Homo sapiens: one gene and its partner. The protein of the gene in region 1 interacts with the protein of each later gene in a biochemical or structural test. Each region holds a gene or a part of one and is shown in the gene's direction. Other genes may lie near its edges.

Region 1 (3,500 bases):
ACAGATACGTAATTCACCTCTGGGACCTCAACCACGAAGGGACGTGGGAAGGAAAGGGGACGTATGTCTATTACACAGACTTTGTCATGGAGCTCACTCTCCTGTCCCTGGACCTCATGCACCATATTCACATGTTGGTAAGTTTCCTCAGAAGGAGCTCTAACAGAGGGCAAGCCTTTCAGAATCAGGAACAGTAATGGTTTCTTCATTAAAAAATGAAACTTTAGAAATAAGATGTGGATGGACTACTTAAAGACTAAAAATGAATGTGGCTGCAAACCCTCCCTCTTTTTGCCACTGGGTGTAAGGCAGTGCCATGGAACTGCTTTGGCTGGTGCCTAACTCAGGAGGTGTTTGCTGTCCTGGGAGACTTAGTTAACTCTGCTGACCAAGTCAATAGATTATTCTTTTAGCATGAAATTAAGGAGCTGCCTTTCCCCATAGTTTCTATGGCTTTAAATATTTAGCAGGTACTTTGTAGGTGGTAATGGGAATTCCTGCAGTGTTAGCTACTTCACAGATTTATACATTTTCCATCTTTGTAATTAAAAAAAGTCTTTACACTTAATTCCTACATTCCTACTACCATCATTGTTTACATTTTACTTTGGTATGTTAGACGTTACGGTGTCGTAGATCTGCTTCATTGGTTGGCCCTTCAGTGATCTAATAATGGTGAGAATTAAAATAGTTGGTGGGCAATTTATTTAAATTATAAGCCTAGCAAGTAGCATTTTAAAATTATTGGGCTAGACGTGGCACATTTCTAAGTCTACTTTTTGAAAGAAACTTTGAAAACATACTTTTTAAAGAAAGTATGTAATTCTTTTTTTTAAAAAAGAGCCTCGGCTGGACGCGGTGGCTCATGCCTGTAATCCCAGCTACTGGGGAGGCTGAGGCAGAGAATTGCTTGAACCTGGGAAATGGAGGTTGCAGTGAGCTGAGATCGCGCCACTGTACTCTATCCTGGGCGACAGGGTGACACTCCGTCCCAAAAAAAAAAAAAAAGCCTCCCTCCCCCCTCAAAAAGGGGACAAACAAATGGCCAAAGATAACTGTTAAGATTTTTTATCTTCTTTTTTTAAATTTTTTTTCCTCATGCTTGTATTTTTTGTATTTAACTGCTTCTTTTTATGTATTTTTTGTATTTATGTATTTTGTATTTTTATGTATTTTGTATTTAACTGATTCTTTTTATGTATTTGAGTACATACATTCATAAATTGAGATCATATTTTAGACATATAGTTCTGTTCTTTAAAAACTAATGTATTATGAACATTTTCCTGTGCTAACATCAGTTCTTCTAAGCCATTTTAATACTTTCAGGATAAAAATATCATCAGATAGCTGTACCATGATTTAATAAACCGCATCCCACAATGGGTTATTTAGATTATATTTGGTTGTTTGCTATTTCACATTTTACATATTTTTTATCATGTATTAGTTTGATAAAGATAGTTATATCTTGCTTTTTTCATTTATCTAGTACTATCTTCCCATAATTGACCTTCAGAACTGTTATATATACAAATATAATAGTAATATGTAGTTATATAGTATAATAAGTGAAATTAATGACTATATAATTTTACATTACATGAGTTTACAACCTAACTGTTCTTCTGGGCATTTTGTTCATTTTCATATTTTCTGTTTTATAATTGCATGGATAGACATCTTTTTGCATAAAGCTTTTCCATTTCTGATGAGTTTCTCAGGAAAGATGACTGGCATTGGAGCACCTAGGCTGACGAGGATGTGCATTGTTTAGAGTAATGAGATAAATCTGTGTATTTCCTTTCTGAAAGACATTGCAGTTCACCATCACCAACAGTGAAGAGCTTCCGCTGCATACTGCGCCTTCATCACTAGCAAGTTCACGTTCGCTTTTACCGTGTGTTTTATTCTCTTTCTCTCTAAGTTATTTGGCAACATCTGGTTATCCATGGCCAGCCTGGTCATCTTTATGCAGCTGCGTTACCTGTTTCATGAGGTGCAACGTCGAATTCGTCGGCACAAGAACTATCTACGTGTGGTTGGAAACATGGAGGCCAGGTAAGGAAGCACAAGTTGATGTTGCCTAAGTTTACTCATTTTAGTTTTTTAATAACAGCAGATCCCAGAGTATGTCAGAATGTATGTTTGTAAACTGCTAATAGAGTGGTGGAGAGGAAAGGCTCTGGAGTCAGACTGCCCGGGTGTGAATCCCCACTTAGGTGCTGTGTGATTTGGGGCAATTTACTTCACCTCTAAATTAGGGATGAAAACAGAACCTTCTGCCTGAACTATTGGGAGAATTTGGTGAGATAATTCATGTACTTAGAATGGTACTGGGCAGATAGTGCTCAGTATTAGGCTCTTATTTGTCATGATTTTATTGTCATTATTATCAAATAGACACTTCATTGGGCTTCTACCCTGTTCATTTCCTGAAAGTGGGTCTCAGTTCTTTGCACATGCATGTTTACACACACATACTTAACCTCATTGAAGGAGGCACTTTTTTGCCAAGCTGGGGCTAAGCCACGCCTGGAGGTGCAAGATTAATGGGTATCCTCTTTGCACCCAGGGGGACAGCTTGGATCTCTTCTTTGTGGCCAGGGACACAGATTGGATCTCTGGGGGCCTTACTCCTCTGATTTGTCCGGATATGGTCTCCGAGGTCTTCACTAACAGCAGCCATTATTATTATTATTATTATTATTTTGGAGATGGAGTCTCACTCACCCAGGCTGGAGTGCAGTGGCACAATCTCAGCTCACTGCAACCTCCGCCTCCCAGGTTGAAGTAAGTCTCCTGCCTCAGCCTCCTGAGTAGCTGGGATTGCAGGCGCCTGTCACCACGCCCGGCTAATTTTTGCATTTTTAGTAGAGACGGGGTTTCACCATGTTGGTTAGGCTGGTCTTGAACTCCTGACCTCATGATCCCCCTACCTCGGCCTCCGAAAGTGCTGGGATTACAGGTATAAGCCACCGCGCTCGGCCTAGCAACCATTATTTAGACAAAGTTCCTGTGCATAAGTTACTCACTTTTGAAAGGGCTTTGAAGGTAAATTATATTTTTGATTATCAAGAATGTTTTGCTGAACATGCTTTCTCTGTAACTGTGTTGTGATACAGGCGCAGTCTATCAAGTGGTGTTTAGTGTGCGTGTGGAACTGACTGAGGTTCCTGCTGGGCTTGTTTTGTTTCCACAGGTTTGCAGTTGCAACTCCAGAGGAGCTGGCTGTCAACAATGACGACTGTGCCATCTGTTGGGACTCCATGCAGGCTGCGCGGAAACTGCCCTGTGGACATCTTTTCCACAAGTAGGAGCTTTGTGAAGGGCCATGTGGGACAGGTGTTCTGTCCAGGGCGTGTGTGTGCTTTGTGTACCCAGGCTCGAGACTCATCCTAGTGGAGGAGTGGGGACATTACCTCAGCCTGGCCTTGCTGCTGGCACTGAGTGTTCTGGGAAGCTCTTGGGTATCCTTCTTTGTTCCTTAGCCTCTTCCC
Region 2 (3,980 bases), on another chromosome or scaffold:
GCCAAGCAGGTGGTTGAGATAAGCAGTGAAGCAGAGTGGAAATAGCTTTGGACTGGAAACCAGGTGTAGCTGTCCCACTGACCAGCCATAGAGCAAGTCCTTTCTTTTTTGCACTTCAGTTTCCTGAGATAGAACTTTGATTTCTTTCTTTCTTTTTTTTTTTTTTTTTTTTTTTTTTTTTTACATGGAGTCTCACTCTGTTACCTAGGCTGGAGTGCAGTAGAACTTTGATTTATGAGACCTCTTTCTACTCTGGAATTTGGTATCCTTGGGAGATGCCATATTAAAAAGGGCTCAATTGAGAAGTAAAATGTGAGTTTTTGTTATAAAATGTTTGTTGTAGAATAGTAAGCAAAAAAGAAGAAAGTGAAATTGTCCACTATCCCGACACTTGGGTATAGCAGTGGCCACCATTGTTAACTTTTCAATGTGTATTCTTCAGTCTTTGTGTACTTTTTAAAAAACGCTGAGCCAGGCAAGGCTGCATACACTATGATTGCGCCTGTGAACAGCCACTGCTCTTCTTGGGCTAGGCCTTTAACATAGCCACTGCATTCCAGCCTGGACAACATAACACATTCCTGTAATCCCAGCACTTTGAGAGGTGAAGGCAGACGGATCACTTGAACTCAGGAGTTTGACACCAGCCTGGGCAACATGGCAAAACCCCATCTCTACAAAAAATCCCAAAATCAGCTGCATATGGTGGCATGTACTTGTAATCCCAGCTACTCGAGAGGTTGAGGTGGAAGGATTGCTTGAGCCCAGAGGGTTGAGACTGCAGTGAGCCGAGATCGCACCACTGCACTTCGGGCTGGGGGACAGAGTGGCACCCTGTCTCAAAAAACAATTTTTGTAACCTTGTAAACTTAGTATGCCATAATTGTTTTTTCCACCCTGAAGTGTTATAAAATTATAACAGGTGATATTCCATGGTATGGATATGGTGTAATTATACTAATCCCTTGTTGATGGACATTGACGTTAGTGCTTGGTTTTCTCTTCTGTAATTGGAGTGGTGAATGTCCTTGTAGCTAAATCTCTGCACACATCCATGATTATTTTCAAAAGATAATTCCTAGAAGTAGAATTCCTATTTTGTTGCCAAACGCCTTCCAGAATGGATGTTCAGGTTTACATTTCAACTAGCATTTATAACTGTTCATTTCCCCACATCCTAATCAAACAAGGAAGGCATTTTATTTACCCTTTCCTAGTTGAATAGTTGTAGGATGATGTCTCATTGTTTATGATTTTTAAAAAATGTTTTGAAACAATTTCAGTCCTACAAGAAATTACATATGCAGTACAGGTCTCACTCCATTGCCCAGGCTGGAGTGCAGTGGTATGATCATAGCACACTGTTAACTCAAGCCCCTGGGCTCAAGTGATCCTCCCACCTCAGCCTCCTGAGTAGCTGGGACTACAGGTGCACACCACCAAGCTCTGCTTATTTTCTTTCTTAAATGTTTTTTTTTGTGGAGACAAGGTCTCTCTATGTTGCCCAGGCTAGTCTCGAACTCCAGTCCTCAGGTGATCCTCTTGTCTCTTGGCCTCCCAAAGCACTGAGATTACAGGTGTGAGCCACTACACCCCACTTTTTATTTTTTTATTTTTTTGCAATTGTTTTCTGGCACAACAAGATATACCAGGCTCATCCTGTGCTCTCCTTGATCCAGTCCTAGAATCAGCTGTTTCTTCAAGGAGCCCTGGTTCCTTTAAAGTGGAGAATGGTATTTAGAAGCCAAGATCTGGGTGCTAGATGTGCTCATTGCTATTGGAGTGTTGCTATTCCCAGATCCTCTCAGTGAACAGAGCAATGGAATTATATGTATGTATGTATGATAATGTATACATGTGTATATTTTTAGATCTATGTATTTTTTAAAACATGGGTTTATACTATACTCCCATTTCTAGTACTACCTCATGGTTCATTCTAGCTTTTTTCCTATTGGTTTCCTCCAATATTTTATTATGAAAATTAACAAACTTATAGGAAATCAGAAAAAAATTGGAGTGAGCTTCATGTAGCCACCACATAGATTCTGTAATTAATAGTTCCCTATTCTTATTGCACACCTATCCCTACATCTAGCTTTCCAATCCAAAATGTATGTGCCATTATATGTATACTTAATTCCTTGTATACTTGAGTGTGCATATCAGTAACTAGAGTTTAGTATTTATGTGCAACAAAATACACAAATCTTGAGTGTGTCAACTGAGTTTTTATAAATGCACACATCTGTGTATCTATCAAGACAGAAAATTACCATCAACCAGAAAGTTCCCTGATGTCCTTCCCTGTCAATCATTGTACCTGTCCCCCAAGAAGCAATTGCTATTCTGGTTTTGTTCCTCTGTAGATTAGTTTTTCATGTTCTACAACTTCATGAGTAGAATTGTACAGTATGCATGTACTCTTTGGTATAAGGCTTCTTTCATTCAACATAATGTTTTTGAGACTCATCTGTGTTCTTGTATTTATTGGTAATTTGTTCCTTTTTATTGCTGAATATTATTTGGTTGTATGAATGTACCACTCCTTTCCATCTGCCCTTTCCATCTGTCCTAACCTGATTCTTATTATGATTAATGTTTTACCTACCTAATTACCCCTCATATGTAACCAGTCTTTCGGGATAGTCTCCACCTCTCCCATATGGATGCCTTGCTTATCTCACTCACCCTCAGATTCCCCAGACCAGGCTGCCCTCTTACAGGGATGCCTCCCCATCCTACTCGGGCTAACATCTCGTCAGGCCACCTCCATGTGTGCATGGTCTGATGGGGCTCTTGACTCCCTATACCAGGCTGTGCCCCCACCCCCATCCTGCTAATGTTTGGGCAGTAGAAGGGATCTCAGTTTTGTTTTTGTTGTCGTTGCTGTTTTTTGAAACGGATTCTTGCTCTGTCACCCAGGCTTGAGTGCAGTGGCTCAATCTCGGCTCACTGCAACCTCCGCCTCCTGGGTTCAAGCGATTCTCCTGCGTCAGCCTCCCTAGTAGCTGGGATCATAGGCATGCGCCACCACACCCGGCTAATTTTGTATTTTTAGTAGAGATAGGGTTTTGCCATGTTGGTCAGGCTGGTCTTGAACTCCTGACCTCAGGTGATCCACCCTCCTCGGCCTCCCAAAGTGCTGGGATTACAGGCATGAGCCACCACACCTGCCGGGATCTCAGTTTCTAATATACTTTCCTTTGATTATTGTGAGAGCAAACATTCTCACGTTTATTGACCACATGGATTTCCTTTTTGAATTGCATATTCAGCCCTTTGCCCATTTTTTCTGTTGGTATGTTTGTTTTTATTGTTAATTTGTAAGAATTTTAAAAACTCATTTTGAATTATACTATTTTCTGACTCCAGTATAAATCAGAAGTTTTCAGATACATTTCTAATTTTATCAACTGTGGAGGATTACAAGTAGAAATATAAGTGCAAATTGAGGATGCTGCTTTAATGGTTCCTTCTTTAGTGAGGTTTTGAATTACTACATCATAGTACTTAGGGAGTCTTTTGGACATTTACTATCCCCTCCTATGTTCTGCAGTAATTTTTCTTGGGATACCTTGTTAATTTTTTAAAAATTTTGTGGTAAAATAATACCTAACATAAAATTCACCATCTTAACTCATTTTAAATGTTCAGTGGCATTAAGTATATTCATACTGTTTTGCTGCCATCACCACCATCCATAGAACTCTCTTCATCCTACAGAACTACAACTCTGTACTCATTAAACAACTCCCCACCCCAGCCATCACCATTCTATTTTCTTTCTCTGAATTTGACTACTCTGTACCTAAGTGGAATCATACAATATTTGTCCTTTTTTGTCTGGCTTATTTCTTATTTCATTTAGCGTAAAGTCCTCAAGGTTCATCCATGTTGTACCATGTGCCTGAATTTCCTTCCTTTTTTTTGAGACAGTCTTGCTCTGTCGCCCAGGCTGGAGTGCAATGGAGCAGTCT

The links. The genes of interacting proteins can lie anywhere in the genome.
Region 2: the proteins of AMFR (region 1) and DERL2 form a complex in vitro, tested with the Homo sapiens proteins (one study listed by BioGRID).

What each region holds. Positions count from the first base shown.
Region 1 is NC_000016.10:56,401,546-56,405,045, reverse strand, and holds part of AMFR (E3 ubiquitin-protein ligase AMFR), read left to right. Parts: intron 1-4; coding exon 5-137; intron 138-1,927; coding exon 1,928-2,061; intron 2,062-3,202; coding exon 3,203-3,313; intron 3,314-3,500. UniProt on the Homo sapiens protein: E3 ubiquitin-protein ligase that mediates the polyubiquitination of lysine and cysteine residues on target proteins, such as CD3D, CYP3A4, CFTR, INSIG1, SOAT2/ACAT2 and APOB for proteasomal degradation.
Region 2 is NC_000017.11:5,475,699-5,479,678, reverse strand, and holds part of DERL2 (derlin-2), read left to right. Parts: intron 1-1,679; coding exon of another isoform or gene 1,680-1,722; exon of another isoform or gene 1,723-1,830; intron 1,831-3,980.